7 linked regions of the Homo sapiens genome follow. The protein of the gene in region 2 purifies or fractionates together with the protein of the main gene of each other region. This does not show direct contact. Each region holds a gene or a part of one and is shown on either strand. Other genes may lie near its edges. The genes, in order: DCC, CNOT6L, TOB2, CHAF1A, OBI1, LRSAM1 and MAP4K4.

The links.
Region 1: the proteins of CNOT6L (region 2) and DCC purify together in Homo sapiens (affinity purification with mass spectrometry; one large-scale study listed by BioGRID and IntAct). This does not show direct contact.
Region 3: the proteins of CNOT6L (region 2) and TOB2 purify together in Homo sapiens (affinity purification with mass spectrometry; one large-scale study listed by BioGRID and IntAct). This does not show direct contact.
Region 4: the proteins of CNOT6L (region 2) and CHAF1A purify together in Homo sapiens (affinity purification with western blotting; one study listed by BioGRID). This does not show direct contact.
Region 5: the proteins of CNOT6L (region 2) and OBI1 purify together in Homo sapiens (affinity purification with mass spectrometry; one large-scale study listed by BioGRID and IntAct). This does not show direct contact.
Region 6: the proteins of CNOT6L (region 2) and LRSAM1 purify together in Homo sapiens (affinity purification with mass spectrometry; one large-scale study listed by BioGRID and IntAct). This does not show direct contact.
Region 7: the proteins of CNOT6L (region 2) and MAP4K4 purify together in Homo sapiens (affinity purification with mass spectrometry; one large-scale study listed by BioGRID and IntAct). This does not show direct contact.

Annotation. Positions count from the first base shown.
Region 1 is NC_000018.10:53,203,660-53,208,102, reverse strand, and holds part of DCC (netrin receptor DCC), read right to left. Parts: intron 2,888-4,443; coding exon 2,739-2,887; intron 425-2,738; coding exon 286-424; intron 1-285. UniProt on the Homo sapiens protein: Receptor for netrin required for axon guidance. Mediates axon attraction of neuronal growth cones in the developing nervous system upon ligand binding. Its association with UNC5 proteins may trigger signaling for axon repulsion.
Region 2 is NC_000004.12:77,738,851-77,743,293, reverse strand, and holds part of CNOT6L (CCR4-NOT transcription complex subunit 6-like), read left to right. Parts: intron 1-974; coding exon of another isoform or gene 975-998; coding exon 999-1,153; intron 1,154-3,090; coding exon of another isoform or gene 3,091-3,186; intron 3,187-4,443. UniProt on the Homo sapiens protein: Has 3'-5' poly(A) exoribonuclease activity for synthetic poly(A) RNA substrate.
Region 3 is NC_000022.11:41,436,408-41,440,850, forward strand, and holds part of TOB2 (protein Tob2), read right to left. Parts: intron 1,001-4,443; 5' UTR 939-1,000; coding exon 1-938. UniProt on the Homo sapiens protein: Anti-proliferative protein inhibits cell cycle progression from the G0/G1 to S phases.
Region 4 is NC_000019.10:4,419,100-4,423,542, reverse strand, and holds part of CHAF1A (chromatin assembly factor 1 subunit A), read right to left. Parts: intron 978-4,443; coding exon 748-977; intron 209-747; coding exon 148-208; intron 1-147. UniProt on the Homo sapiens protein: Acts as a component of the histone chaperone complex chromatin assembly factor 1 (CAF-1), which assembles histone octamers onto DNA during replication and repair.
Region 5 is NC_000013.11:78,638,275-78,642,717, forward strand, and holds part of OBI1 (ORC ubiquitin ligase 1), read right to left. Parts: intron 3,940-4,443; coding exon 3,848-3,939; intron 798-3,847; coding exon 549-797; intron 1-548. UniProt on the Homo sapiens protein: E3 ubiquitin ligase essential for DNA replication origin activation during S phase.
Region 6 is NC_000009.12:127,475,510-127,479,009, reverse strand, and holds part of LRSAM1 (E3 ubiquitin-protein ligase LRSAM1), read right to left. Parts: intron 77-3,500; coding exon 47-76; intron 1-46.
Region 7 is NC_000002.12:101,858,207-101,861,706, forward strand, and holds part of MAP4K4 (mitogen-activated protein kinase kinase kinase kinase 4), read left to right. Parts: intron 1-789; coding exon 790-876; intron 877-1,436; coding exon 1,437-1,658; intron 1,659-2,618; coding exon 2,619-2,780; intron 2,781-3,500.

The sequences.
Region 1 (4,443 bases), on a different chromosome or scaffold from region 2:
TTACAGAGATAGGGTCTCACTATGTTGTTCAGGTGGGTCTTGAACTCCTAGGCTTAACTCATCCTCCTGCCTCAGTCTCTTAAAGTGCTAGGATTACCTGTGTGAACTACCACATCCAGCTGGGAGTATGTATCTTGATAGAAAGTTTACATTTAACTGTAATAGTCCATAAAATTTTAGTCAGGAAGCCTTGAAAATGGAATATATGATATATGTGCAATATCATGTCATTATTGTCAATATTATGTCAAATATGTAAAAGGAGTTTCACTGTTTTTAACTTACCGTCAGAAAGTGTAACCACTGTTATATCATCAGTAGAGACGCCCGGACCATAGCGATTATAAGCTAAGAATCGAAGACTATATTCGGTGAATTTTTTCAGGCCTTCCAGTTTATAAGATAGTCCATCAACCTCTATATTCTGGAGACATAAAACACCAAAACTGTTATCAAGGAAGCACATTAAAGTAGAAATGGCACTCATTCTGTGCAATCAGTGAATTGGACATTAGACTCTTACAAACTACACTCCAGCCTTCTAATGAGCTATAAAACCTACCTTGTGACACAGACTCCCCCACTAAAAACCAACTAATCTGTAGACTCCTTGTTAAAACAGCACATGCTATTTTTACAGTCATTAAGTTCCAATTTGTTTAACACTACTCAATGTACTGAATGGTTTGGGTTATTCTACCCACACCTAAACCCTCACAGGCAGAAGGCAGCTTATAACGCCATGGGAACAGAGATTTTCTCCTGTACCCAAAATGGAATAATTCACCAAGAAATAATAGATTTTGTGCTTCTCTTGCTGAAATATACCCACAGCTCTTGAAACTGTCAGACACTTTGCCACAATTTTTATCTCCCAAAATGCTGTTAGATTGGTTGAAATTATTTGAGCCTCTCATGGCTGCAGTAAATGAGATACTGGAGGTGAAGGTTACTGAGGAATCAGATCTTCACACTCACATCTATCTTGGATGATGATGGTTTTGAATTTATTTAAATTGGTTGGCAAAATGCGTTGAAGAGCTAAAATATATAGAAAGGCAGATAAAACAGAAAGTTGAAAAAACAAGAGCAAAAAATAGCTTGAAGATAGCAAGAAAAAAATACAACCCATGATTACATAGGAGGAGCTCTTGTAATGCTTATCTTATAATATAATTTGGGACTGGGCTTGAGCTATTTTTGAATATAAAATATTTCTTATTTTTAAGTAAAAATTCTGATCATGCAGTTTATGTGAAAGCAGGAAGGCCTTTCTATGCTTGACAAGCTTCACAACAAATAATAAGAACTCCCATATCCTGGGGCCAATTTTTGATTTAACTATTGAATATATACATGTCTGTATATATTTTCCTACATGAAGTTGAGAATCTGGAAGTAAATACCTCAACAGTCATACATATATATATGCATTATAAATATGTATACATATATTATATATATGTATACATATATGTATTATATATTATACATAGATATGTATTATATACATATAGATGTATAGATATGTATTATATAATACATACATGTATATATACATAGATATGTATTATATATAATACATGTATATACATAGATATGTAATACATATACATTATATATTATATATACTATATATAACACATACATATACACATATATGTATATATACATATATACATATATGTGTTACAATACATATATGTATATATACATATATACATATATGTGTTACAATACATATATGTATATATACATATATACATATATGTGTTACAATACATATATGTATATATGTGTTACAATACATATATGTGGTATATATGTGTTATAATACATATATGTGGTATATATGTATTATGTATAACACATATATGTATATATACACATGTATATGTATTATATATGTATACGTATATGTATTATATATGTATATGTATATATGTATTATATAATATATAATATATGTATATGTATTATGCTTATATATGTATTATACATGTATAATACATATACGTATATATGTAATATATATGTATTATATAGGTATACATATTATATATACACATATATATGAAACTCAATTTCTATTTTTAACATATGTGTGTGCATGTATCACCAAATAGAATTTTTCAGTTTCATGTGTCTCCCTAAAGACCTTTTTACTTTTAGTTTACCTGAACAGTTAATTTGCTTCTTTTCAGGTGTCTATGCTAACCATTGGGTAGGAGCAAAATGTAAGGAGAAGGAGACTAGGCTTCTCAGAGTAAGTTCTTCTGAAAACATTAAAAAATGGTAGGACACATCCTGATGATGGAAGGGAGTTAGATATAAATGTCTTAGAATGAAAAAAGCAGTTTGGCAAACGCCATTGACTAGGAGGGCAATCACCCCTTAGTCTAAGGAATAAAACTGCAAATGCCTTCCACGACCAGGTGAGTTAATACAAATCTGGTTGCCCACACACGCCAGGCCACTGCAGACTCAACCAAAAAATTGGTATCCTTTCTATTGACTTCACTTTATTGCCCATTTACCTCTTACCACCAGAATTTAATTAAATTGTGTAAAGTTTCCAATAACAAGTGCTTTAAAACTAATCAGCTTTTCAATGAATGTGTTAACACTGGGCTGTTTCAAGAGTTTGCGAGTCTTTTCCTATTTCTCCAGCCCTAGAGCTATCCAATGGATGGAAACATCCAACAGATGGAAGCAGTGTGGTCCATTCCTTCACCTACCTGTTCTTTTCCTGTGGACACCTCAGTGCAGAACAATCTGTAACCTTGGACTGGACCGTTTGCATAGGCAGGGGGTTCCCAGGTAATAAGAATTGAGGTAGGTGAGGTAGATACAGCTTGCAGGTTTTCTACTGGCCCTGGAACTTGCACTGTATAAAAAAATAATAAAGAAAGAAAGAAAAGTGATTAGGATAAGTGGGTTTTTGTTCTCAAAACAAACAAAATTACATTTTTACAGTTCAATAAAATTCTAGGAGTATGTATTTTAGAATAATATGGAATAAGAATATAAAAATATAAACTCTGGAAGCTTTAGAATCGCTTCATTTTAAAATTCATAAGAAAGCTTACATTAACCAAAATTGCCTATTTTATTTTACATTTAGAGAAACTGGTAAAGGAGTACAAGTGACTAAGATAATGGCAGCAAAGAGTGGGATTGTGAATCTAAATTCTTAGTCTGAAAAATTTGCCACTATGCCACTATGTCTTTGCCTGCACATGGCTAATAACTGCAGAAGGAAAAGAGAAAGTACATTTGGAGTACTTGTATATTATGGTTCTACTTATAATTAAAATAGGTCGCACAGCTATGGATAATTTACCACATTGTCTTTCTTTAAGTCAGAGTTTTAAAATCTTGCCTGATTCTGGGTTCATTAAATGAATTTTAGTGTTCCATTTTCAATTCCACTTTTTAGTATTACATTTTCTCTTATTATTGTTACTTAAGAAGGATAAATAACTTGTCTGCTAATGAAATTAGACAGCACAGATCCACAATCGTTTACCTAAAACACTTTTTTTTTTTTTTTCCAGAAACAGAGTCTTGCTCTGTTTCTCAGGCTGGAGTGCAGTGGCATGATCACATCTCACTGCAACCTTGAACTCCTGGGGTCAAGCAATCCTCCTGTCTCAGCTTCCTGAATAGGTAGGACTACAAGCATGCACCATCATGACCAGTTATTTTTTTATTTTTATTTTTTGTAGATACTGGGTCTCACTATGTTGTTGCCCAGGACAGTCTTGAACTCCTGGCAAGCGATCCTCCTGCCTTGGCATCCCGAAGTGCTGGGATTACAGGTGTGAGACACCACACCCAGCCCAGGTATCTTAAGATTTTGAAACTTTCAGATTTTAGAAAAGTAACATAGTATCTGTGCAGGGTTTTTTTTTCTTTTTTCCCTAATGGGGTCTGTAGTAGCACCCTGTTAATCAAATGTAACTATATATTTGCAGTAAAGCATATGATACTCATATCAAATTGTTTACATTGTTAATCAAATGTAACTATATATTTGCAGTAAAGCATATGATATTCATGCCAAATGGGCTCATTAGAGACTATGAATAGCCTAGCATGAGGTCAGGTCAGGTTCAGATACAGAATGTGTTAAGAAAAAGCTTCCATTTTGATTCTCTGCAAATTTTGTATTTTTTCATAATTTTGTATTCCTGCATATGGACCTGTATATAGCTTGTAAATGGTAAATGCAATGGCCACACTATGGTTACCTAAAATCAACAAATGATACCACCATTCCAGGTTTAACTACAGCCTTACTTAATAATGTTGTCTGTGTATTTTCCCCAGGCTTGGATAACACCTAGCTTTGGACAGATATACATTGTAGGCCTGTAATACAGTTCTGAGAGTTTGAACTTCCATAGCAAAAATGGCATAGGAAAAACTGACTGGCATGAA
Region 2 (4,443 bases):
AGAACATAATTTAAGAAAATTGTCTTATTATAAAAGCAATGCTATAATACTATACTGTATTAAAAAGAGATCATTCTAGAGAAGTTGAAAATTTTGAAAAAATATAAAGCATGATGGAGGGAAATACCTAATTTCATGTCATAAGATAGTTGTGTTAAAACTTCTGGAGTATTTTTCTTCTATACATTAAGTAAAATATATTTACAGATACATTTTGATTCTTATTTATTGTACTTAATGGATTTTCCATGTTACTAAAATTCTTCAAAACTCATTAATTATATGAACGTATATTGATGTAGCTTTTCCCATACCATTGGACACATTTAGTTGTTTATGGGTTTTTGCTGTCATAAACTCATGCTGTTAGAAACATCTGCATACATAAATTATCTTCATATTTATTTCATTTAGAAAGACCTGTTAAAATATTTTATGAGTCAAAGAATAAAATAGACTAATAATTATTAAATTAATAGAGGCCATTGGATGATTGCGATTTAGGTACTTAAAAATTTCTTAAAGTAGAATTTTTTGTGGATAGATTTTACGTTTCTCACTCTTGGGTATCATTTCTTTCCACCATAGTTCAGAAGGATATGCAAGTTTTTAAATTACCTTTTTATATATAAATTACTATTCCCTATCACAGAATCTATCATATACCCAACTTGCTTTGTTTAGTTGCCAGTCTTGAGGAAGTAAAGTATAATGGAGTGAACTGTAAATTGGGAATCAAGAGACCTTGGGATGTAGTCCTACTCCTGTTACTATCTGTGTGAGCATGAGAAAATCATGTCACCTTTCTGGTTCTTTCATGTTTAAAAAGCTGCCATTGTCAAGTAGCAGCTGCTAGCAATCAGGTAAGATAGTAAGATAATATTTGCTATGTGAATTATTTTTACTAAGTTACATCTTACTCATAATGCTGAACATTTTTATATCTTAATCAGCATTTTCCCTCTGTCATATAGATGATAACTTTTCTTTCATCTCAGGAAGTGGAAACAGAGCAATACTTCACTCTCTTTCTGCCAGCATTGAAGGAGCGTGGATATGATGGATTTTTTTCTCCAAAGTCACGTGCCAAAATCATGTCTGAGCAGGAGAGAAAGCATGTAGATGGTTGTGCAATATTCTTCAAAACAGAAAAGTAAGTTAAGGAAACAAAGCACAATGGTGTACTTTTATTTATTTAAATGCTTACACTTTAAAATTGTCTTTGGTTTTGCCCTATAAAATCAACAGAAAGCTAGAAAACAAGTATTATGCAACTTAAAACTGTTGTTAATGTTTCATTTCTCAGGCTGTGTATTCGAAATAAGGATATTTATTGTATTATTCCTTATGCTTTTATTACCAAATAACACTGAACATTTTAAGAGATACAGACTTGAATGGTCTCATATTTCAGAACATATTTTCATGAAGTAAAGTATTAGTTTTTGTGTAAAAAAAGAAAGTGATACCTTTTAAGGTTGGCCATAAGTGATCTGGGTTTCTTTTCTGTGATTTTTTTTTAATAATTGATTTTTGAGAATCATTCATTTTAAAATCATTTATTCACTAAATGTATACTGAGCATTTGCTTTGTGATAAGTCCTGTGCTAGACACAACAGACACAAAGATAGTCAAGACATAGTTCCTAATCTCACTGAAAGCTCAAATCCAGTAGGAAAAACTAGGCATATAAGACAATTGCAATATCATATGGTGTAATATAAGATAGAGGTCTGCCTGGGTAGATAAGAGAGGCAGGCACAGAGCATATGGAGGTAGAGAGTTAAAAGGGTTGACTGAGACAGGGCAATGGAAAATGAAACGTGACATCTGATAGAGGTTGAATCCCATGGTTAATAGTTTGGATTTCATACGTTAGGAAATCATCTTACAGGATAAGCATATACATGCTTACAGCTGTTTTCCAGTATTTCCCCATTTTACATCTATTTTACCAAAGCCAATCTGTTTTTATTGATCCAAGCATATTACCAGCATGACATGCTATTTTAAGTAAACAAATTCAATGAATTTGAAAGATATTTGGTCCACTTCCCATTTATCTATGCCTACTTTCCTGTCTTTTCCATGAATTTGTAGTAGAGATATTCTTATTTTGGTTAATAATTAGTACAAAGCCTTGTAGTATTTGAGGTCAGAATATACTAAATTCTTCTAATGGTTTGGTAATTTTTTATGCATTTTAGAATAATTCTATTAAAACTACGTATCTCTTAACTACGGGAATATGTTCTGAGAAATGCATCATTAGGTGATTTTGTTGTTGTGGGAACATCATGAAGTGCACTTACACAAACCTAGATGGTACAGCACTATACACCTAGGCTATAAGGTATAGCCTGTTGTTCCCAGGCTAGAAACCTGTACAGCATGTTACTGTAGTAAATAGACAATTGTAATACAATGGCATTTGAGTCTAAACATATCTAGACGTAAAAAAGGTAATGTATTGTGCTGTGATGTTAAGACACCTACATCATCACTGGGTGATAGGAATTTTTCAGCTCCATTATAGTCTTGTGGGACTACCATCGGCATGTAGTCCCTTGTTGACTGAAATCTTGTTATATGGTATATGACCGTACTTCCAGAGTGTTTGCCATCTGTCAGCCTTTTCGAATTGTTTATATTAGTTGTCTTGTTCAAATTTTAAAGCAACTCTTACAGGCAGCTATACAGCTATTTCCTTGTTTTTAAAGATGAGGAAACCAAGGTACAGACAAGTTCAATAACTAGTTCCAGTTACACAGTCTGATTTCATAGTCCATGCTTTTAACTACTGTAATAAACTGAATCTTTAGCCTTCTTGTTTGAGCTTTTGATATCACTAATACCTCTTATAAGATTACCTCATTTAGAAAAATTGCCCTGAATTTGACATTTGTTTTTGTTTTTAGACAGGGTCTCAGAGTCTTACTCTGTCACCCAGGCTGGAGTGCAGTGGCGATCATGGCTCACTGCAGCCTCAACCTCCCCAGGCTCAGGTGATTCTGTCACCTCAGCACCCTGAGTAGCTGAGACTACACGTGCATGCCACCACACCTAACTAATTTTTGTATTTTTTGTAGAGATGGGGTCTTGCTGTGTTGCCCTAGGCTGGTTTTGAACTCCTGGGTCCAAGCAATCCACCCGCCTCAGCCTCCCACAGTGCTGGGATTACAGACGTAAGCCACCGTGCCTGACGATATTTGTTACCTATGTTCATACACAAATCCCCTTGAAACACCATAGCTTAAAAAAAAAATGCACCAGTAAACTTGAGACATCTAACATCAGGCTCTTTTTCTATTTGCTATAGTTTCTTTCAAGATAATATGGAAGATTTTTATTATTACTCTCACAGTTTTGAGAGGAAAAATCTAAAATTCCTTAACAATTTACTAGAAGTAGTTAAGGCTTTGAAATAACAGTTAGAACTGTTATCTGGGTATTTGCAAATTGATTCTTGAATTATTAAAAATGCTGTGAACTAGTTAAGTAATGAGCACATAGGAAGTACTTAGATGTGTCACCTGTTTTTCTTTTCTTCCTCAACTCTTTTTTCCTGAATAGTAACATGGATCTGGCAACAGATTGAATGTGATACATCAGTATATTGTACCTCTTTTCAACTTCTTTCCTGGAATGACAGGACTATATACCTCCTATAGGTAGAACAAAACCACCTTCTGTCCCAGTACCAGATATTTATCCATGTCTTAGCTGACTATTCAGTGCCAACTATTTGGAATTTAAAGTATTATACCCTGCCTTTATTCTTTCTTCAGACTGGAAATATAGGGCAAAAAAAGACTGTGAGTTTTGAAGCCAGGTGCTTCTTCTATTTATTTAGCTATATAATGTTGAAAGACTTAGCATTTCTGGACCTGTTTCTTCATTTGTATATTCTTATCTTGTAAGATCATTTTTGTAGAGGTTACAAAACTAACAAAGATAACTGTGGAAGAGTAGTCAACACTGTACTTACTCTCAGTCTCTTTCTTCTGTAATCAGAGTATCTGATAATTCCTCATCTTCACTGATGACTGTTTAATCATACATGAAAAACTGGTACAGAATACGCAACAATAAATGGAAACTATCATAATTGCCATTTATAGCAAAATACTATAATAAAAATCTCTAATCCATCATGATGAAAGGATAGAGTATTGTTTAGTAAAGGCTAGGACACAAGTTACCAATATTCAGATAATTAGAATATAATACACTGTTCTTTAAATCACATTATTCTAGTTTAGTTTTGGGGGATTCAGAATCTACTTCAGGATTTGGCAGCACCTGTTTGGTCATCATTATGAACATCATTTTTTGGGAGTTAGATGCATAGAGATACTAGAAAATAGAACTTTGAGTGATAAAATACCAGATCTCAGCTTTTGCTTTGTCTTTTAACAAGTATTATTTACGTTCCAAAGCAT
Region 3 (4,443 bases), on a different chromosome or scaffold from region 2:
AAGAGGCTGTTGGCACCACCTCCAAATACCTGGGCCATGTCAAAGCTGCTGCTGTTGCAGGTGCCAGCCCCACTGCCTCCAAACGGGCCTGGGGTGCCGCTGCCCTGGCCATCGGCCGCATCAAAGAAGAGGCTGGGTGAGCCACCACCGTTGTACACGAACTCCTTGGCATTGGGTGAGAGCTGGGACTGAGGGGCCGGGTTGGCCGTGATGAAGTTCAGTGAATGCATAGACAGAGAGAGGCTCTTGTGCTTCAGCAGGCTGTTGGTGGGTGAGCGGGCCATGCGAGGCTGCTGTGGTGGCTGCTGGCCACCCGCCCCACTGCTGGCTACACCCCCACCACTTGCTGCCCCGCCCCCCTTCTTCATCTTAGTGGAGCCAAATTTGGTGGCAGCGAAGGAGGCGGTGGTGAAGGTGATGGGCTGAGCGGAGCGGGGAATGAAGGTAGGGCTGGGTGACTGGCCAAAGGATGGCGATGGGGAGTTGGACAGGGAGCTGTCCTGGCTGCCAATGGGCACGAACACCTGGGCGTCAGGGTTGAAGCTGCTCTTGATCTCCTTGTCCAGCTCTGGGGCACCGCAACCCTCACTGTCATCCAGGTACAGCACTTTCACAGCTCCCTTCTCACCAATCTGGTAGGACACCTCAAAGGGATCAATCCAGACACTCAGCTCCTCAGGCACATTGGCCCGCACATCTTCCACCGCCAGGCCACTCCGCTTGGCGGCCAGCTCCACCACGGGGTCCACCATCTCCCCAATGTGAACACAGCGGAAGCCAGAGCCTTTCAGTGGCTTCTCAGGGTACCAGTGGCCTTCATATTTCTTTTTCAAAAGCCGCTCTAGCTCCTCCCCAAACAGGTCTGCCCGGCGCCGGGGCAGCTTGTTGTACAAGTAGGAGATGATGAAGTTCAGGGCCACTTTGATCTCTAGCTGCATGGTCCTTTCCTAGGCAGAGAATCAGCACAGGGCACGTGTACAGCCTTGGGCTCCAGGCGGCTCTGGGAAATGAGAGGCACCGTGAGAAAATATGCAGAAAGCTGGTGGTGACCAACAGCTAGGGATAGACAGAAAAGCACCAACTTTGGATCACACAGAACCAGGAGCCTATTTCTGCCCCACCAGTGGCTCATGTCTGACTGTGGGCCCCAGTTTCCTCATTAGTAACATGAGGCCATCATGAAGTTAAGGTAGTTCAAGGATATAAACTGCCTCACAGTGTACCTGGCAATTAAAAGGTAATTGATAAAGTTAGCTACTATTGGCCGGGCGCGGTGGCTGATGCCTGTAAGCCCAGCACTTTGGGAGGCTGAGGCAGGTAGATCACGAGGTCAAGAAATCAAGACCATCCTGGCCAACATGATGAAGCCCCATCTCTACTAAAAATACAAAAATTAGCTGGGCATAGTGGCGCATGCCTGTAGTCTCAGCTACTTGGGAGGCTGAGGCAGGAGAATTGCTTCAACCCAGGAGGCAGAGGTTGCAGTGAGCCGAGATCATGCCACTGTACTCCAGCCTGGCGACAGAGTGAGACTCCATCTCAAAAAAAAAAAAAAAAAAAAAAAAAAAAGCTACTATTTTAAAGTAATTCTAAAGAAATAGGGAAGCTGTGTTTTCCACCATCTTGAGAATTCAGGTCACTGTATGAATGACACTAAAAAAATCAAGTCCCTAAATCAGGTGAAGAAGAAGTCTCTTGCTGTCTCTGCAATATCTTGGTGAAGTCGTGCCCCCAAACTGTCACAGACTAAGATGTAAGTTTAAAATATTTGGTTGTCCTCCTTAAATGAAAAGGGATACAGGTCACTGAACAGGAAAGAGCACTGCCAATTCTTCACTGGGGGCCTGGACTCCAGTCACATCCATCTGTCATCATGGGCCCCATGGGTGTGTATGCTGTCTGGTTCAGTCCAGGTTTGCAGAACTGATTTAAGAACTCCGGCCAGGTGCAGTGGCTCATGCCTGTAATCCCAGCACTTTGGGAGGCTGAGGCGGGTGGATCACCTGAGGTCGGGAGTTCGAGACCAGCCTGACCAACATGGAGAAACCCTGTCTCTACTAAAAATACAAAAAATTAGCCGAGCATGGTGGTGCATGCCTGTAATCCCAGCTACCCGGGAGGTTGAGGTAGGAGAATCGCTTGAACCCAGGAGGCGGAGGTTGTGGTGAGCCGAGATCGCACCATTGTACTCCAGCCTGGGCAACAAGAGCGAAACTCTGTCTCAAAAAAAAAAAAAAAAAAAAAAAAAAAAAAAGGAATAAGACATAAGACAAGAGCATGAGCCCCAGGAAAAAGGCAAGACCTGTCACAATCAGAGATGTGGACCAACAAGGGAACTGCTGACTCGGGGCTGCCACAGGGAAGCAGAGAAAAGGAGGGGGAATCTCTGTAGTTTCTGGTGAGAATGTAAGTGATGAGGGTGGCAGAGGAAAGAAATTTTCCATCACCCTGCAGCCTCCGGTAGGGACCCATCATCACTCAGTCTCCCAGGGACTGTCTGACCACCTGTCCTCGGCAGCAGATCAGATTTATCAAGTGTTTTGAGATCCCCGGAGAGAAGGCAGCCCAAGATAAACACCAGATTGTTATTTTGGGATTCTCTCACAGCCAGATCCCACTGAGGTCAAAAAGGTTTATTCCCTTGGCCTGGGCCAGCCTCATGTCTCAGGAAGATGATCTGTGAGGTCCTGAGAGCCAGTGATCCTAATCTCATTTTCTCCAAAAGGGCAGCTCCGGGGCTCATGCTGGGGGAGAAACTGAACTGAAAGAGCCATCTCTGAGAGGAGGCAGAGCCAGAACATGTTCCTAGCCAGACCTCTGGGCAAGGCTGTGCTGCTGAGCTAAGCAAAGAGACATGACTGCTCCATGAACTGTCAAGGGCATCTTCTGTCCTATGAAAGACTTGGGGCTGGATTTTGATTCAAATCCTTTCTGGATCCAGCTTGAAGTATCCAGGTGCTAATTTCAGGCTTGGGGATTTTGAGTTTTCTAAACACCTGCCCCAACACATTTCCCTGTAATTCTCAGGCCTGGGCCCATGGCTCTTAAGGGGCATTTAATTTAATTTAATTTTACGTATGTATGTATGTATGTATGTATGTATGTATGTATGTATGTATGTATGTGGAGACTGAGTCTCGTTCTATCGCCCAGGCTGGACTGCAGTGGCGTGATCTTGGCTCACTGCAACCTCCACCTCCCAGGTTCAAGTGATTCTCGTGCCTTGGCCTCCTGAATGGCTGGGACTATAGGTGCCCGTCACCACGCCTGGCTAGTTTTTGTATTTTTAGTGGAGATGGGGTTTCACCATGTTGGCCAGGCTGGTCTCAAACTCCTAACCTAAAGTGTTCCGCCTGCCTTGGTCTCCCAAAGTGCTGGGATTACAGGCATGAGCCAACACACACGGCCTTAAGGGGCATTTTTGGGACTAAATCCTCAGAAAAAGATTTCTGGGGTGAATGTATCAGAGAAGACTCACTGGGTCAATCTGGAGCAGCATGACAGTGGCTGAATCTAGTTAACCCTCATTTCAGTTCTGAGGAACAGAGAAGGTCACATGGGAGTCAGCAGAGGTACCACAACTATGCCTCTCCCAAACCCTCCACAAGAACACTCAGGACTCAGAATACCCTGGTTTCCCTCTTTTCCCAGCCTCCAACACAGACTTCATCTCTAAGTTTCTTCAAATGTCTATTTTTTTCTTTTTCTTTCTTTTTTTTTTTTTTTTTGAGACGGAGTCTTGCTCTGTCGCCCAGGCTGGAGTGCAATGGCACGGTCTCGGCTCACTGCAACCTCTGCCTCCCCGGTTCAAGCGATTCTCCTGCCTCAGTCTCCCAAGTAGCTGGGATTACAGGCGTGCACCACCACTCCTGGCTAATTTTTTTTTTTTTCAGTAGAGACGGGGTTTCCCCATGTTGGCCAGGATGGTCTCGAACTGCTGACTTCGTGATCCACCCACCTCAGCCTCCCAAAGTGCTGGGATTACAGGCATGAGCCACCGCGCCTGGCCTCTTTTTCTTTTTTTGAGACAGGGTCTCACTCTGTCACCCAAGCTAGGGTGCAGGATCACAGCTCACTGCAGCCTCCACCTCCCTGGGCTCAGGTGATCCTCCCACTTCAGCCTCCAAGTAGCTGGGACTACAGGCATGTACCACCACACCTGGCTTTTTTTTTTTTTTTTTGACATGAAGTCTCTGTCACCCAGGCTGGAATGCAGTGGCGTGATCTCGACTCACTGCAACCTCTGCCTCCTACGTTCAAACAATTCTCCCACCTCAGCCTACTGAGTAGCTGGAATTACAGGCATGCACCACCACACCTGGCTAATTTTTGTATTTTTAGTACACACGGGGTTTCATCACGTTGGCCAGGCTGCTCTTGAACTCCTGGCCTCAAGTGATCCACCTGCTTCAACCTCCCAAAGTGGTAGGTTTACAGGCCTGA
Region 4 (4,443 bases), on a different chromosome or scaffold from region 2:
ATCTAGACAGACTCGCCCTCCCTGCGGGCGCCATTTGGTTTCCCCAAACCAAGAGAATATTAGGTGACGGCTGTGGCAAGAATTCCACTTTGGGCATCTGCTTCTCCAACGGGCTGGGACGGGGAAGCTCTGTGGGAAACACTCTACCTTCTCTTCTTCTCTTAACCGTTTCTCTTCTTCCTTTTTCCTTTTTTCCTCAAGTTTAGCCCTGTGAGACAGCAAATGACATTTCAGCCGACTCTTTGCTTTGGCTCTGGAAGGGACCGCAGCACTCAACTGTTAGTATATGGCAAGTATTTCATTTTACATTAAATGAATATAAGTTATTTTCATGTCTAGTATAAGGCTTTTACATAGGTCTTCACAATAAAAATGGAAAACAGTCAATAAAATTCTTCCTGTGACTAGAATATATATAAAAAACTTTAGCCAGTCAGAGCACAATTAGCACAGACAAAACCCACAATCCTGCAATGCAAATGCCTAAGTTGGTTGGGAACTGGAAGGATGGTCACAGCAGAGACAAGGGGTCCAGGGTGAGTTGGACGTGGGGGAGCACTAAAGAGCAGGGAGCTGCTTTCCACCGCTCCCACGTCAGGGCCCCACGGGCACCTCACGAAGGAGAAATGGGAAGGAACTGAAGGGAGCCGCCATCTGCCTGTGAAGTGGAAAGGCCCCATCAGAGTGGCCAGGAGCGGAATCCAGCAGCAGGGTGGCGGGCCCAGCATGGCCTCCAAGGACACTCACTCCAGGGCTTCCTGTCTCTCCTTGCGCCGCTCCTCCTTGAGCCGCTGCTTCTCCGCCTTCTCCTTCTCATCCTTCTCCCGCTTCTCCCGCCTCTCCTTTTCCTTAAGCTCCTTCTCTTCCTCCTTCTTCTTCTTGGCCTCCTCCTTGGCCCGCTTGGCCTCCTCTTTCAGCTTCTCCTTTTCTTCCCTTTCTGCACGTAACTTGAGCTGCTTGCCCAGACGCTCCTGATCCTACAAGACAGTGTGGCAAGTGACAGGTGGCCCTCCCTCCAACTCCCAGGAGGAAGCTCGGTTCACAGCATGGAGGACAGCACGGCCTGGACGGGATGAACAGAATTGAGGGACCAAGGCTAGGCATGGTGGCTCACGCCTGTAATTCCAGCACTTTGGGAGGCTGAGGTGGGTAGATCACCTGAGGTCAGGAGTTTGAGACCAGCCTGGTCAACAGGGTGAAACCCTGTCTCTACTAAAAATACAAAAATTGGCTGCGCGCGGTGGTTCACGCCTGTAATCCCAGCACTTTGGGAGGCCGAGGCAAGTGGATCACCTGAGGTCAGGAGTTCGAGACCAGCCTGGCCAAGATGGTGAAACCCCATCTCTACTAAAAATATTTTTAAAAAAAACTAGCCAGGCATGGTGGGCGCCTGTAATCCCAGCTACTGGGGAGGCTGAGGCAGAAGAATTGCTTGAAACCAGGAGACGGAGGTTGCAGTGAGCCAACACGGTGCCACTGCACTCCAGCATCAGTGACAGAGTGAGACTCCATTTAATAAAAAAAAAAAAAAAAATTAGCCAGGCGTGGTGGAGGGTACCCGTAGTCCCAGCTACTCAGGAGGCTGGGGCAGGAGAATCACTTGAACCAGGAGACGTAGGGTGCAGTGAGCTGAGGTCACACCACTGCACTCCAGCCTGGGCAACTGAGACTCAGTTAAAAAAATAAATGAATAAATAAGAATTCAGAGACCAGCTCCAGGAGGAGCCTCCAGTCAACAACTTTACACAGAAGTGATTTTATTTTTCTTGAGACAAAGTCTACTCTGTTGCCCATGGTGGAGTGCAGTGGTGCAGTCATAGCTGGCTGCAGCCTCGACCTCCCAGGCTCAAGTGATCCTCCCACCTCAGGCTCCTGAGTAGCAGGGGCTATAAGCACACACCACTATACCCAGCTATTTTTGTAATTTTCCTAGAGATGGGGTTTTGCTGTGTTGCCCAGGCTGGTCTTGAACACGTGGCCTCAAACAATCCTTCTGCCTTAGCCTCCCAAAGTGTTGGAATTATAGGCATGAGCCCCAGCACCCAGCCACAGAAGTGATTTTCATAATCCATTATGCTTCCTTCCATCATGAGAAAAATGTTAAGAATTAGCCCTGTGTCCTGGTACTTGTGGGAAATTCAATATAAGATTCATTTAAAACACAATCCTGCTGGGCTGAGGGGGCTCACACCTATAATCCCAGCACTTTGGGAGGCTGAGGCAGACAAATTGCTTGAGGCCAGAAGTTTGAGACCAGCCTGGCCAAGAAGGTGAAACCCCAAGTCTACCAAAAATACAAAAAAATTAGCTGAATGTGGTGGCGCACACCTATAGTCCCAGCTACTCAGGAGTCTGAGGCACAAGGATCGCTTAAACCCACAAGGCAGTTCAAGATCACGCCACGGCACTGCAGCCTGGGTGACAGAGCAAGACTCTGTCTGAAAAACAAAACAAAAAAACATTATTTATTTATTTGGAGATAGAGTCTCATTCTAGTGCCCAGGCTGGAGGGAGTGCAGCAATGCTATCTTGGCTCACTGCAACCTCCGTCCTGGGCTCAAATCAGTCCTCCTGCCTCAGCCTCCCGAGTAGCTGGGACCACAGGCACCTGTCACCACACCTGGCTAATTTTTGTAGAGATGGAGTCTCACTATGTTGCCCAGACTGATCTTTAACTCCTGCGCTCAAGCAATCTGTCCACCTCAGCCTCCCAAAGTGCTAGGATTACAGGCATGACCCATTGCAACCAGCCCAGGAATTCTTTTTCTTTTTAGTAGAGACACTACGTTGCCCAGGCTTGTCTCAAACTCCTGGGCTCAAGAAATCCTCCCACTTTGGCCTCCCAAAGTGTGGGATTATGGGGGCGAGCCACTACGCCCAGCCTTGTTTCAAATTCTTTAAGGAAGTAACACTTCATCACTACGTTCCTCATTCCAAAGACTTGGCAGTGGCCTGGGACACTCAGTCATTACGTAATCTGAAGTTCAATGTTAAACATGCTCAGCCAGGCGCAGGCTCCCACCTGTAATCCCAGCACTTTGGGAAGCCGAGGCAGGCGGATTACTTGAGGTCAGGAGTTCGAGACCAGCCTGGCCAACATGGTGAAACCCCGTCTCTACTAAAAATACAAAAATTAGCTGGGCATGAAGGCACGTGCCTGTAATCCCAGCTTCTTGGGAGACCGAGGCAGGAGAATCGCTCGAACCTGGGAGGTGGAGGTTGCAGGGAGCCGAGATCACGCCGCTGCACTCCAGCATGGGCAACAGAGCGAGACTGTCTCAAAATAAAAAAAAAAAACGCTCACCTGCCCAGCTCCACAGGTGCCCGCTCCTAACACTGCATGAGGACCACCTCTCATCCAATATGGGCTTCCCACACGTCTGGAGCCTGACAGCTCAGCTTTCAGTTTGGGTTAGGATATCTGCCCTTGTCTCTAAGGAAAAATTCTAAATGTGTTCCAATACATCTCTGGTAGCTTTAACAAAAGCCACAGAGACACAGCCTGGAAGATGTCTGATGTGCATTTCCTGCCAGTGTGCTGTGTGACTGCATCTGATATACGAGACACACGAGGAAGGTGACCGTCTGGACTGAACAAGGAGACTATAAACATAACTGGGTGAAGAGTCTCCCACCCTGTTGCTAAGCAGGAAATAGAAGGCTTCTAGAAACTGCAGGTGAATCAGATTTCTTCAGCCGCCGTTGGATACTTTCTCCGCTCCCCAACCCGGTGTGCGGGACTCGGAGGTTCCAATGAGCTTTAAAAGTGCTCTTGTTCCAAAGAATGAGATAAACTGTAAAAATAAAAATCAGGCTGGGCGTGGTGGCTCACACCTGTAGTCCCAGCACTTTGGGAAGCCAAGGTGGGTGGATCACCTGAAGTCAGGAGTTTGAGACCAGCCTGACAAACATAGCGAAACCCTGTCTCTACTAAAAATACAAAAAATTATCCAGGCGTGGTGGCTCGTGCCTATAATCCCAGCTACTCGAGAGGCTGAGGCAGGAGAATCGCTTGAACCCGGGAGGTAGAGGCTGCAGTGAGCCGAGATTGCACCACTACACTCCAGCCTGGGCAACAGAGACTGTGTCTCAATAAAAAAAAAAGTAATAAAATAAAAATCAACCCCAAATCTGAAACACAAAAACTCAGTGTGGCCATCAGGAAGCTCAGGAAACGCCCAGTGAACATCAGGGAGCTCAGGAAACACTCAGTAAACGCAGAGCCCATGGTCACCAGGCCCCTCCTGTGAGCTGGCACTGCATAGGCAAAGCCCAGAGGCCTTCCCTGGAGTTTTGGTTTGTTTCGGTATGACATGATGTTCAATTTCTCTAACCTTTAAGCAATAAGTAAAAAGTCCCCTGCGGCCAGGTGTAGTGGCTCAGGCCTGTAATCCTAGCACTTTGGGAGGCTGAGACGGGAGGATTGCCTGAGCTCAGGAGTTT
Region 5 (4,443 bases), on a different chromosome or scaffold from region 2:
GAACCAGTTTCATAAATCACAACATTCTTTTGCATGAGGTACTCTGAAGCAGCTGCTTATTGCTGTCCTGGAATTAGTCACCAAGTCTTTATCTATCTACAATCTTAAAAATAAGAGAGTGGTAGCAAAAGAAAAGATAAGGTCAAAACTTTTCCTTTCATTGGTGCGAAAATGGTTATGTGTTTGTTTTTAGGTACACAGGGGAAGTCGCTGATATAAGCTTAAAAAACCTATGGCAAACCACAAAGAGGACGAAACAGAAACACATCCTTTAAATTGGTATTATTCTTCTAGAAGAAGATGCAATCTTATACAGAAGCACAACAGTCTCTAATTATAGTCACACATGGAACCACCTGATATTTCTTGGCAGTTAATGATATTTAAATAAGAAAAAGTCTTCTTATTGCATATAAATGCTCATCCAGAGATTCTGTCCTTTCCTCACAAATCATCTGATGATGAGTCAAGATAATATGGCTATTTATGCTTTTGAAGGTACTTATTTTAAAAACAACCATAATAGATTTTTAAAAACCACAACTTACCTCCTTTAGCTTATCCACATCATCTTTCACTTTTTCATAGATTTCATTAGCTGTTCTGAGTTTTTTCTTCCACTCTGCTACAGTTTCTGGGTTAATTTTACTTGGATTATCTGTGACTAGATGTTTGTCTTCATTTTGGTTGCCCTGCACCAAGGTTAAAGGATCCAGAATAGTTTTGATCTGTGACTCCAAGCTGAGATTTTTACTCTTAAGCTCTTCTACTTCTTTCTGTAAACAATCTATTTCGTCCTGAAAAAGCATTGCATAGTCATGAGGCAGGCATAGACACTAAACACATACATACATATGCTAAACTGAAGCCAACATGGTTTGAATTTTGTACTTAAAATTCTGTAGATACATAGATTCTTTACATATCAAAAGAGTTTTGCAGGGAGAAAGTCACATACAGTTTAAATTCTCAAAATGTGGCCTGACTGATAAAAATTGGGATTTATGTTGCCTTCATTTTAATTCAATGTTAGTTGTGATTTTTAAAAATGCCAAATCTTTGATTCTATTTAAGATATCATCCAGGTGGAGAAATAGGAACACTTTTACACTGTTGGTGGGACTGTAAACTAGTTCAACCATCGTGGAAGTCAGTGTGGCGATTCCTCAGGGATCTAGAACTAGGAATACCATTTGACCCAGCCATCCCATTACTGGGTATATACCCAAAGGACTATAAATCATGCTGCTATAAAGACACATGCACACGTATGTTTATTGCGGCATTATTCACAATAGCAAAGACTTGGAACCAACCCAAATGTCCAACAATGATAGACTGGATTAAGAAAATGTGGCACATATACACCATGGAATACTATGCAGCCATAAAAAATGATGAGTTCATGTCCTTTGTAGGGACATGGATGAAATTGGAAATCAACATTCTCAGTAAACTATCGCAAGAACAAAAAACCAAACACCGCATATTCTCATTCATAGGTGGGAATTGAACAATGAGATCACATGGACACAGGAAGGGGAATATCACACTCTGGGGACTGTTGTGGGGTGGGGGGAGGGGGGAGGGATAGCACTGGGAGATATACCTAATGCTAGATGACGAGTTAGTGGGTGCAGCGCACCAGCATGGCACATGTATACATAGGTAACTAACCTGCACAATGTGCACATGTACCCTAAAACTTAAAGTATAATTAAAAACAAAAACAAAAACAAAAACAAAACAAAACAAACAAACAAAAAAAAGATATCATCCAGAAAATAAGAAAAGTCACATGAATTCCAACAGGGAAGTAGATTCCATTTCAAAAAAGAACAAAAAAACAAAAAACTTGAGGCATACTCAACTGCTTTACTGAGGGGAATTTGAAAGTACATTGAGGGGGGCCGGGTTAAAAAAAAAAAAGGTACAGTTTGTCCCCACCTCATCCCCACATCTACAGGGGATTGGTTCTAGGACCCTTAGGGATACCAAAATCCATGGATGTTCAAGTTCCTGATGGAAAATCACTAGTGCTGTATTTGCATATAACCTACATACATCTTTCCATACATTTTAAGTCATCTCTAGATTATTTATAATAACCAATACAAAGTAAATGTCATACAAATAGTTATTAAACTACATTATTTTTATATATATTTATTTTTTTAATTTTCAATCTTGGTTGTTTGAATCCACAGATGATGAATCCTTGGATATGGTGGGCTGACTGTACAGAGTTATCAAGATGATCGTGCCTGTAATCCCAGCACTTCGGGAGGCCAAGGCAGGTGGGCCAGCTGAGGTCAGGAGTTCAAGACTAGCCTGGCCAACATGATGAAACCTCGCCTCTACTAAAAATACAAAAAATTAGCTGAGTGTGGTGGCAGGCACCGGCAGTCCCAGCTACTTGAGAGGCTGAGGCAGGAGAATTGCTTGAACCCAGGAGGCGGAGGTTGCAGTGAGCCGAGATCATGCCATCTGCACTCCAGCCTGGGTGACAGAATGAGATTCTGTCTCAAAAAAGAAAAAGAGGATTGTTAGGGTTTTGATATTTATACTTTCACTTCTATATTTGAAGTATGAGTGAAACCATCTACCATTTCCTTCTACTTTTCATTCCAGAATAATATCTGTAGTTAATTTTGAATTTTCAACTTTTCTGGATTCTGGTTCTTCAATTACTACTGTGACTATTGCAAGTATTAGCCTTCCCACTCTGGAAATGTTTATTATCCTAAAACCAGTCACTAAACATTTGGGTTAGAACTTCTTACTATGATGCCATTTATTCATCTATAATAAATATGTCACCTTAAATTGAGGTTGTTAAAAATTCTGCTAGAAAATAAACCCCCAAGTAGCTCAAGTGATCTCCCAAAGGATTAATTTGTTTACCATCTGAGTATGATAAATATTCATTATATAAAAATACATTTTAGCATTAAATGTCACACAGATAGTACTACTTACTATTTTAAATTGCAATACATTTCAACTTAAATAGCATTTTCATAAAACAAGCAAATTCATATATGTAAGGAACACATATATGAATAAACATATATTCAATCATGTATTTATACCCCACTGCATTCCAAAAATTTTTGAGGCAGTTGAGGCACCTTCCATGTACACAGTTAAACTGAAAGATATTTTGAGTCAAGAGGGGATCGATATCTCCTTCTTCAGTCAACATAAAATGACAACTGGGCTTAATGTGTACTATTCAAAAGTGTATGTATTCTATTAGCATGAATTTATTTGTAAAAATAGCATCACCATGTCCAATCATCCTGTTCATTCACCTTTAGACAATAATTAGGAAACAGCATGTTTCACACTAAAATCTCTGTGCTGGCAGTTGACATAAGGTATAGTATTTACTTTACTAGAATTGATCAGGCTTATAATCATCAGTAACTTCATAGGCAGAAGCAACTGATGACTGCAGAGGTCAGACTGGCTTTCACAAGGAGATTTCCTTTTTCTCCCAACTTCTTGAGGAAGCAAATACAAAATGATATGTCTGTGGAGGTACAAATTTTAACTTAAAAAAAAAAAAAAAAGAAAGAAATGCTTCCATCTGTTCCTTTTTTCTGGAATCCCATTCCCCCATTCCTTGGTACTTAAAGAAAAAAAATAAAACAAAAAATCTCTTTCCTCTATTTAAAATACGAAAGGAAAAAAGAAAAAAGAATTTATCAAACAATTTCTTTTTATAGGCTTTTAAAATAAAATTTCATTGGATATTTACTCTAAGAAGTCTGGGGACTGAGGTAGGTCAGTTTTTACCTTGAATTCACTGCTAACATAATTTTAAACTTTGATTACTGTTTACCTCATATTCTTTGTGTAGTAATTCAAGTCTAGTTTTCCGAAGATGCTTCCTGACCGTATGGCTTAGCATAGGTTCACTTTCACTTGTTCCTCCTGTAGGGAAAAAAAAAAAAATCCTAATTTTTCATTCTGATTCGGGAAGAATGAAAATGATCCTTTTTCATATTGTTTTATATAGCTTCCCAGCTTCACATCTACCCTTCCCCTTACATACACACTTGGGGCTTACATCTAGGCCTTTTCTCTACCCTAATCTTGAGGAAAAAAAAATATATCAAATAACACCATAAGAAATACCTTCAGTAACACATCATATTGTATTTACATATCTACATATCTTATCACAGCAAACTCAGTGGAGGAAAGGGCTGTAATTATCACATTTGGACTACTTCAAATTCTGAAAACTAGACTATATTTAAATAATAAAACCAATTATTACATTTACATTTAACCAAGAGATTATATAAAAATGTATTACTGGCTGGGTGCAGTGGCTCACGCCTGTAATCCCAGCACTTTGGGAGGCCGAGGCGGGCGGATCACGAGGCCAGGAGATAGAGACCATCCTGGCTACAGTGAAACCCTGTCTCTACT
Region 6 (3,500 bases), on a different chromosome or scaffold from region 2:
TCTTTAATGAGAAAAGAGTGACAGAAGGGTAAAGGCATTTTCTTACCTTCCTCTTCTCATAGTCTGAGAACCTGTTCTGGGAGGAAAAAAAGACAGTGGTCAAGAGAGGGTGGCAGCAGTGGTTCTCCCTGGCATGGGCACCAGGAACCCCCGGGTGGCCTGATGTTATACAAACTCTGGCCCACCCCAGACCACTGCCTCAGAATGGTGGGGTCGGGGGATGAGGGGATCCGTATTGATCAAGGGCACCAGGTGGTTCCAGTGGACACCTGATGAGAACCCCTGGGCTGTCACTGTGTGCATGGCACTGTAGGAGGGGCTCTTCAAGACAGTTCTGGGATGCAGCCCTGAGCAGGGATGGTGGTCTGAAGAGCAGAGCAGGAAATGGGATATCTGATGCCCATGGATGTCTGCGTAACACACCTACAGCACCCGGTTCCAGTCCACCAAAATACTCACAGTGCACAAAGGTGTGGGTACAACTTCCTGCAGAATTATTCAAAAGAGCAAAAACACTGGAAATAACTCATACATCTATCAACATCTGTCCGTAAGTCATGGTGCATCCATACAGTGGACTATTACACAACCGCCAATGGGGCGAATGTGTGAGATCCCTCACCTGTGTGTAGCATGATTCTACTTTTGCAAAAACATCATCAAGAAAACTCAACTCTGAGCATATGTGTGAAGGTATTGAGTCAAAGGTCAAGAAGGACAGTCATTAATCAGTTAATGATGACTACCTCCAGGCAACGGGAGTGCAGGGTGGAAGGGTTGACATTCACTTGGTTTGTAATTGTCTGTATTGTTTAAATTTATAACAAGGAGCAGGTATTAAACATCAATAATGTAATGTAATTATTGGTGTTTAATTAATTAATTTATTATTGATGTAATTAAACAGCAATACACATATACACAAGAGTTAGGTTCTTCTTTTTTTTTTTTTTTTTTGAGACGGAGTTTTGCTCTTGTTGCCCAGGCTGGAGTGCAATAATGGCACAATCTTGGCTCACTGCAACCTCCACCTCCTGGGTTCAAGCAATTCTCCTGCCTCAGCCTCCTGAGTAGCTGGGATTACAGGCACCCACCACCACACCCGGCTGATTTTCTGTATTTTTAATAGAGACAGGGTTTCACCATATTGGCCAAGCTGGTCTCGAACTCCTGACCTCAGGTGATCCATTTGCCTCGGCCTCCCAAAGTGCTGGGATTATAGGCATGAGCCACTGCGCCCGGCCCACACAAGTTTTTTCTTTGTGATGGAGTCTCACTCTTGCCCACGCTGGAGTGCAGTGGCACAATCTCAGCTCACTGCAGCCGCGACCTCCTGGGCTCTAGTGATCCTCCCACCTCAGCCTCCTAAGTTGCTGAGACTGCAGGCACGCACCACCATGCCTGGCTAATTTTTTGTATTTTTGGTAGAGACAAGGTCTTGCTATGTTACCCAGGATGGTCTCAAACTCCTGAGCTCAAGCATCCACCCGACTCGGCCTCCCAAAGTGCTGGGATTATAGGCGTGAGCCACTGCGCCTGGCACACAGGTATTTTTTGAATGGTCCTTCTATTTAGTTATCCTGTTTTGAGAACAGGATCAGTCTCTGAATTATAAAAGCAGCAACCTATAAATAGGATTTTGCCTATACTAATGGTAGGAATATAATTTTAAAATTAATCTTCAATTATACAGATAACATCTCAATATATTCTCCTTGTAAAAGTTTGAAACATGGTATAAAAAACTAAAGCATCTACTGACCACTCCAGCCTAACCCTGGTTCCCCTCCCACCCCACACCTCCTGTCAGGTGTAACTGTCATTATCAGGCCCAAGGCATGCATCTGTACATATATAATTTGTGCCTTTGGGAAAGAAATATATTTGTATTTGTGTGCATATATAAACATTTTTTTAATCAAGTATAATCTATTTACTCTAATTCACCCAATGTTAGTGAACAATTCTATGAATCTTTATATATGCATAGAGTTCTGTAACCTCTAAACACAATTAAGATAGAAAACAATTCTGGCTGGGCGCGGTGGCTCATGCCTGTAATCCCAGCACTTTGGGAGGCTGAGACAAGTGGATCACTTGAGTTCAGGAGTTCGAGACCAGACTGGCCAGCATGGTGAAACCCCGTCTCTACTAACAAAATGCAAAACTTAGCCAGGCGTGGTGGCAGGTGCCTGTAATCCCAGCTACTCGGGAGGCTAAGGCAGGAGAATTGCTTGAACCTGAGAGGCAGAGGTTGCAGTGAGCTGAGATCATGCCACTGCACTCCAGCCTAGTGTGACAGAGTGAGACTCTGTCTCAAAAAGAAAAAAGAAAACAATTCCATCACCCTCGAAAATTCGCTCATGCCACTTCATCATCAAATCCTCTTCCCACTCCAGCCACTGGCAACTACCTGTCTGTTTCCTTTTTTTGTTTTGAGTTTTCTTTTTCTTTCTTTTTTGAGATAGGGTCTAGTTCTGTTACTCAGGATGGGGTGCAGTGGTGTAATCTTAGCTCACTGCAAACTCCAACCTCCTGGGCTTAAGCCATCCTCCCACCTTAGCCTCCCTCGTAGCTGGGACCACAGGCACGTGCCACTATGCCTGGCTAATTTTTTTGTATTTTTTGTAGAGACAGGGTCTCGCCACATTGCCCAGGCTGGTGTTGATTGAGTTTTCTTTTTAAACATAAGAATGGAAATAGACTAGCCCATCCTGTTCTGCAATCTGCCCTTTTCACTAATCCATGTGTCCCAGCGAGCCGAGGCTCAAATGCTCCATCTCATGGTGTGCACATGACCCAGGGGCAGTGCCTTCTCACTGACAAACATTTGGGGGGCATCCAATACTACAAATAAGGCTGCAATAAACACTCCTGCAAATGTCTCCTCATGCAAGCATTTATCTTGGGTATACATTGAGAAGCGGAACTTCTGGATCACGGGCTGTGCCCATGAAAATTTTTGACATCTGGCGGGTGTGGTGGCTCACACCTGTAATCCCAGCACTTTGGGAGGCCGAGGTGGGCAGATCACTTGAGGTCAGGAGTTCGTGACCAGCCTGGCCAACATGGTGAAACCCCGTCTCTACTAAAAATACAAAATTAGCCGGGCATGGTGGCGCATCCCTGTAATCCCAGCTACTCGGGAGGCTGAGGCAGGAGAATCACTTGAACCCGGGAGATGGAGGTTGCAGTGAGCCAAGATTGCACCACTGCACTCCAGCCTGGGCAACAGAGTGAGACTCCATCTCAAAAAAAAATAAAAAAATAATAAAATCTTTTTTGACACCTACTGTCAAATTATCCTCCAAAGTTGTGATACCAATTTTCACTCCCAAGAGCAGTTTATGAGGACACCTGTTTTCCCATACTCTGGCCAACAGAAATTGTCATGTCAAAATGTGTGCCAATCTTGAGGAAGGAAATGGTATTTCAATGTTGTTTTAACTTAACATGCCTCTCCTCTGATTACCAGCAAAGTTGGCATTTTTAAATGTTTG
Region 7 (3,500 bases), on a different chromosome or scaffold from region 2:
GAGGCCTCCTGGTATCCCTGTCCTTTATAATACGCATGCAGCTTTGAAGTAGGGTTTTACCCCTCTCTATAACATATTTGGGATGTGTTTACTTGTTTTCATTGTTATAATGACTAATCATTCTCTTCTCATTGAAAAGAAAAACCACCCCATCCTCACTTCCTGCTGTCTTTCTCTCCCCTTGTCCTTGTCTGTCTCTGTCTGTCACACACACACAAGCTCATCATGGAGCCTGGGTCTGTTCATTTGAGGAGAGTTGCCCAAGTCTGGAATGTAGTCATTCCAGGTGCCTTTGGAATTGTTAGTGAAAGCATGAATCATGTTTGTTGTATTTTATTATTAAGCAGGTTTTGGTTTTAGGTTTCAAAAATTGGTGATCTGTGCTTGTTACAAATAATGACTAATAAGCAGATGTTTACTAATCAGAACCCTCTGATACTTTTTAATTAAAATCTTGATTTCTCTGGGGTTTACCAACCTTAAGAGGAATGGCATACTGTTTTAAAATTCTGTATTTGTTTACAACAGCTGTGTTCTAACAGAAGTACTCTTAGATCCCTTCGTGTATATTATGGGAATGCATATCATCATTTGTTAGACTCCTTAGGTCTTACTGGCCAATTTGAAGTTCTTGGAGAAATCTTTAGCAATAGATTTTCTTCAGGTATTTACCACTAAGTGAATTGTCACTAAAGGTGATTGGAGCAAATGGTTCTTGGTGCTCCATTCAGGTGGTTCTGATGCTTTTCTTTGGGATAATTTGATTGCTGGGTGATTTCTGTGTGACAGGAGTATATCAGGCGACAGCTAGAAGAGGAGCAGCGGCACTTGGAAGTCCTTCAGCAGCAGCTGCTCCAGGAGCAGGCCATGTTACTGGTAAAGCCCCGCCTCTGTTTCATTCTGTAGCATCAGGGCTCCTTCATCCGTCCCCAAAGTTGAGCAAGCTGTGGTGGTCACCAGACCATTTTGGTTTTGCTGTGGGCAGCCAGGCTGAAATAGTGATGCCCATTTTGTGGTCCTATTGCTAGCACATTGCAACATGGTCTTTATTTATTTATATCTCTTTAATAAGTTAATTGTTCTTGTTTGGTAGACCAACAAGGTTTTGAACAGAACTTGGCACTCAGTGAACACACTAGAATGCTGAGGGCAGTAGGTTGAAAGCACATGTCACAGGATTTTTACCTAGTATCTATACCACTAAAACTCACATTTAATTGAATTATCTCTTACTCTGTCCAATGATAATTATGGTTAGCAACAGCTGTGAGATTTTTCCACAGGTAATGTGCTATTTAAAATCCCAGCCATTTTGCTTTCTTACAAAACACAGAGGGAAAATATATGGTCACTTTTTTTAAAAGCCGAACAAATCCAGAGAAGAGGCGAGCTCTCCAGTGTCCCATAGATTTAGTGTTATCCTCTCCCTCTCCAAGGAGTGCCGATGGCGGGAGATGGAGGAGCACCGGCAGGCAGAGAGGCTCCAGAGGCAGTTGCAACAAGAACAAGCATATCTCCTGTCTCTACAGCATGACCATAGGAGGCCGCACCCGCAGCACTCGCAGCAGCCGCCACCACCGCAGCAGGAAAGGAGCAAGCCAAGCTTCCATGCTCCCGAGCCCAAAGCCCACTACGAGCCTGCTGACCGAGCGCGAGAGGTATCCTCTTTCCTTTGTCACTTAGACATTGCCCTGGAAAGTCGTATAACGACTCTTCAGAACTGTGTCATATGAGTTCTAGAACGGGCCATAGAGTTTAGCTAATTATCTGGTTTCTTCATTTTCTAACTAGGAAATTGAATTTCAGAGGAGTGGAGGGCCTTGCCCAAGGTTTCATATTCAGTCAGTGCTTTTTCCATAAAGGACCAGAGTGCCTCAGTTAACATATCCCAGAAGAACTTGAAACTGAACTAAACTAAAAGATTACATGACACAGTCACTCTTAAAAATGTGGATGAGGGAAAGAGTGGTCTGATGAACTATTCTGCCAAGCTAGTATAAAGCTAAAGTGTGCCTGTGGCTCAACTTTCTGACTTTGCAGATGTCAAGATGCCCTGCTAGATTGGTGCATTAGGGTTACCCAGAGCCTCAGAGTAGGCTGCGGCAGGGACTGCTCGGGGGTGCAAGATGGGCGACAGGTGTGCCTCCAGAGGTGTTGAATCCCGGCCCACAGGTGGCAGCAGCCTTCTATTGTGTCTGCCCTCACAGGCAGTAGATTCTAGAAACAAGTGTTCTGTTTGTTCTGGAGTGCTTTTATATTTGGTGGAGTGAAATGCATTCCGGATTTCTGATGATAGTTTTTTAGTCTGTTGGTTTAGTTGCTTGTGACAGATTAATTTTTTTCTACTTCATCATCATATACAGTCTTAGAATTCTGAGCAAGGAGGAGAGCTTAGAGACTGCCTTGCTAATTTTTATCTTCATAAATATTTTCTTTTTCCTGAATCTAATCCTAGCACTGCTTTATGTACCTTCTTTTTTCCAGCTACCCCTCTCTTTTCTGGTAGCAGAAGAAAACAGAAAACTTACCTTTAGATTTCTTCCACTTTTAGACTTTCTTTGATATTTCTGCTTTTCCCCTACTAACACTGAGTTATGTCTTCTAATTCTCTGATGCAGGTGGAAGATAGATTTAGGAAAACTAACCACAGCTCCCCTGAAGCCCAGTCTAAGCAGACAGGCAGAGTATTGGAGCCACCAGTGCCTTCCCGATCAGAGTCTTTTTCCAATGGCAACTCCGAGTCTGTGCATCCCGCCCTGCAGAGACCAGCGGAGCCACAGGTAGCGACAGCCAGCTTTGCTGTGGTTGAGGAGACTCATGCAACGGCTCGCTGAGCCGCAGGCCTGCTGTAATATCACAGTTTAGTTTGTCACCACACTGAAAAAGAGGAGAGATTAGCAGGAGTGAGTTTAGACTAAAAGAAGGCATAGACTCAGTTGATAGGGAAATATCTTTTTCTTTCTTTTTGAGATTTCTATGTACTCATTAAGAGTATCTAGAGTGAGTGATTTCTTCTAACTTTTTGCCTTCCCTAACTCAGGTGTTAAGTGCCTCCTTTTTCTGATACAAAGATCTTTTAGTTTAGTTTTTAGAGAACTGGGATTATAAATACATAGAGGGAGAGCCAGGAATTTTCTTTGAAGTATTTTAAAAGTAAGCGCTTTACTGTGTGAGCCCTGGCTCTTGGCCAGTCCTATGAATGGGCCTTAGATGATGCCCCTGAAATTGCATGCAAAATGTCTTTATTTGCTCAAATGTGTATTTTTTGTGGGGGTGGGGGGAATGACCTTTTATCAGATTCTCACAGGGTTCAAGATCCAAAAAAGTTTAGATCTAGTGGGTTAGGTGTGGATTTCTCTGAAATAGGCCAGGGAAAAGGCTGTGACCTCTCCTTGGGTCTGCTGCAGCGTTCTAGCCTTGGCTAGGTGAGGGGAACTGTTGGGCCGATGCTGTGTGGCTGGAGCAGAACCCACAGTGCTGTCCATAGAGGAGAACAAGCA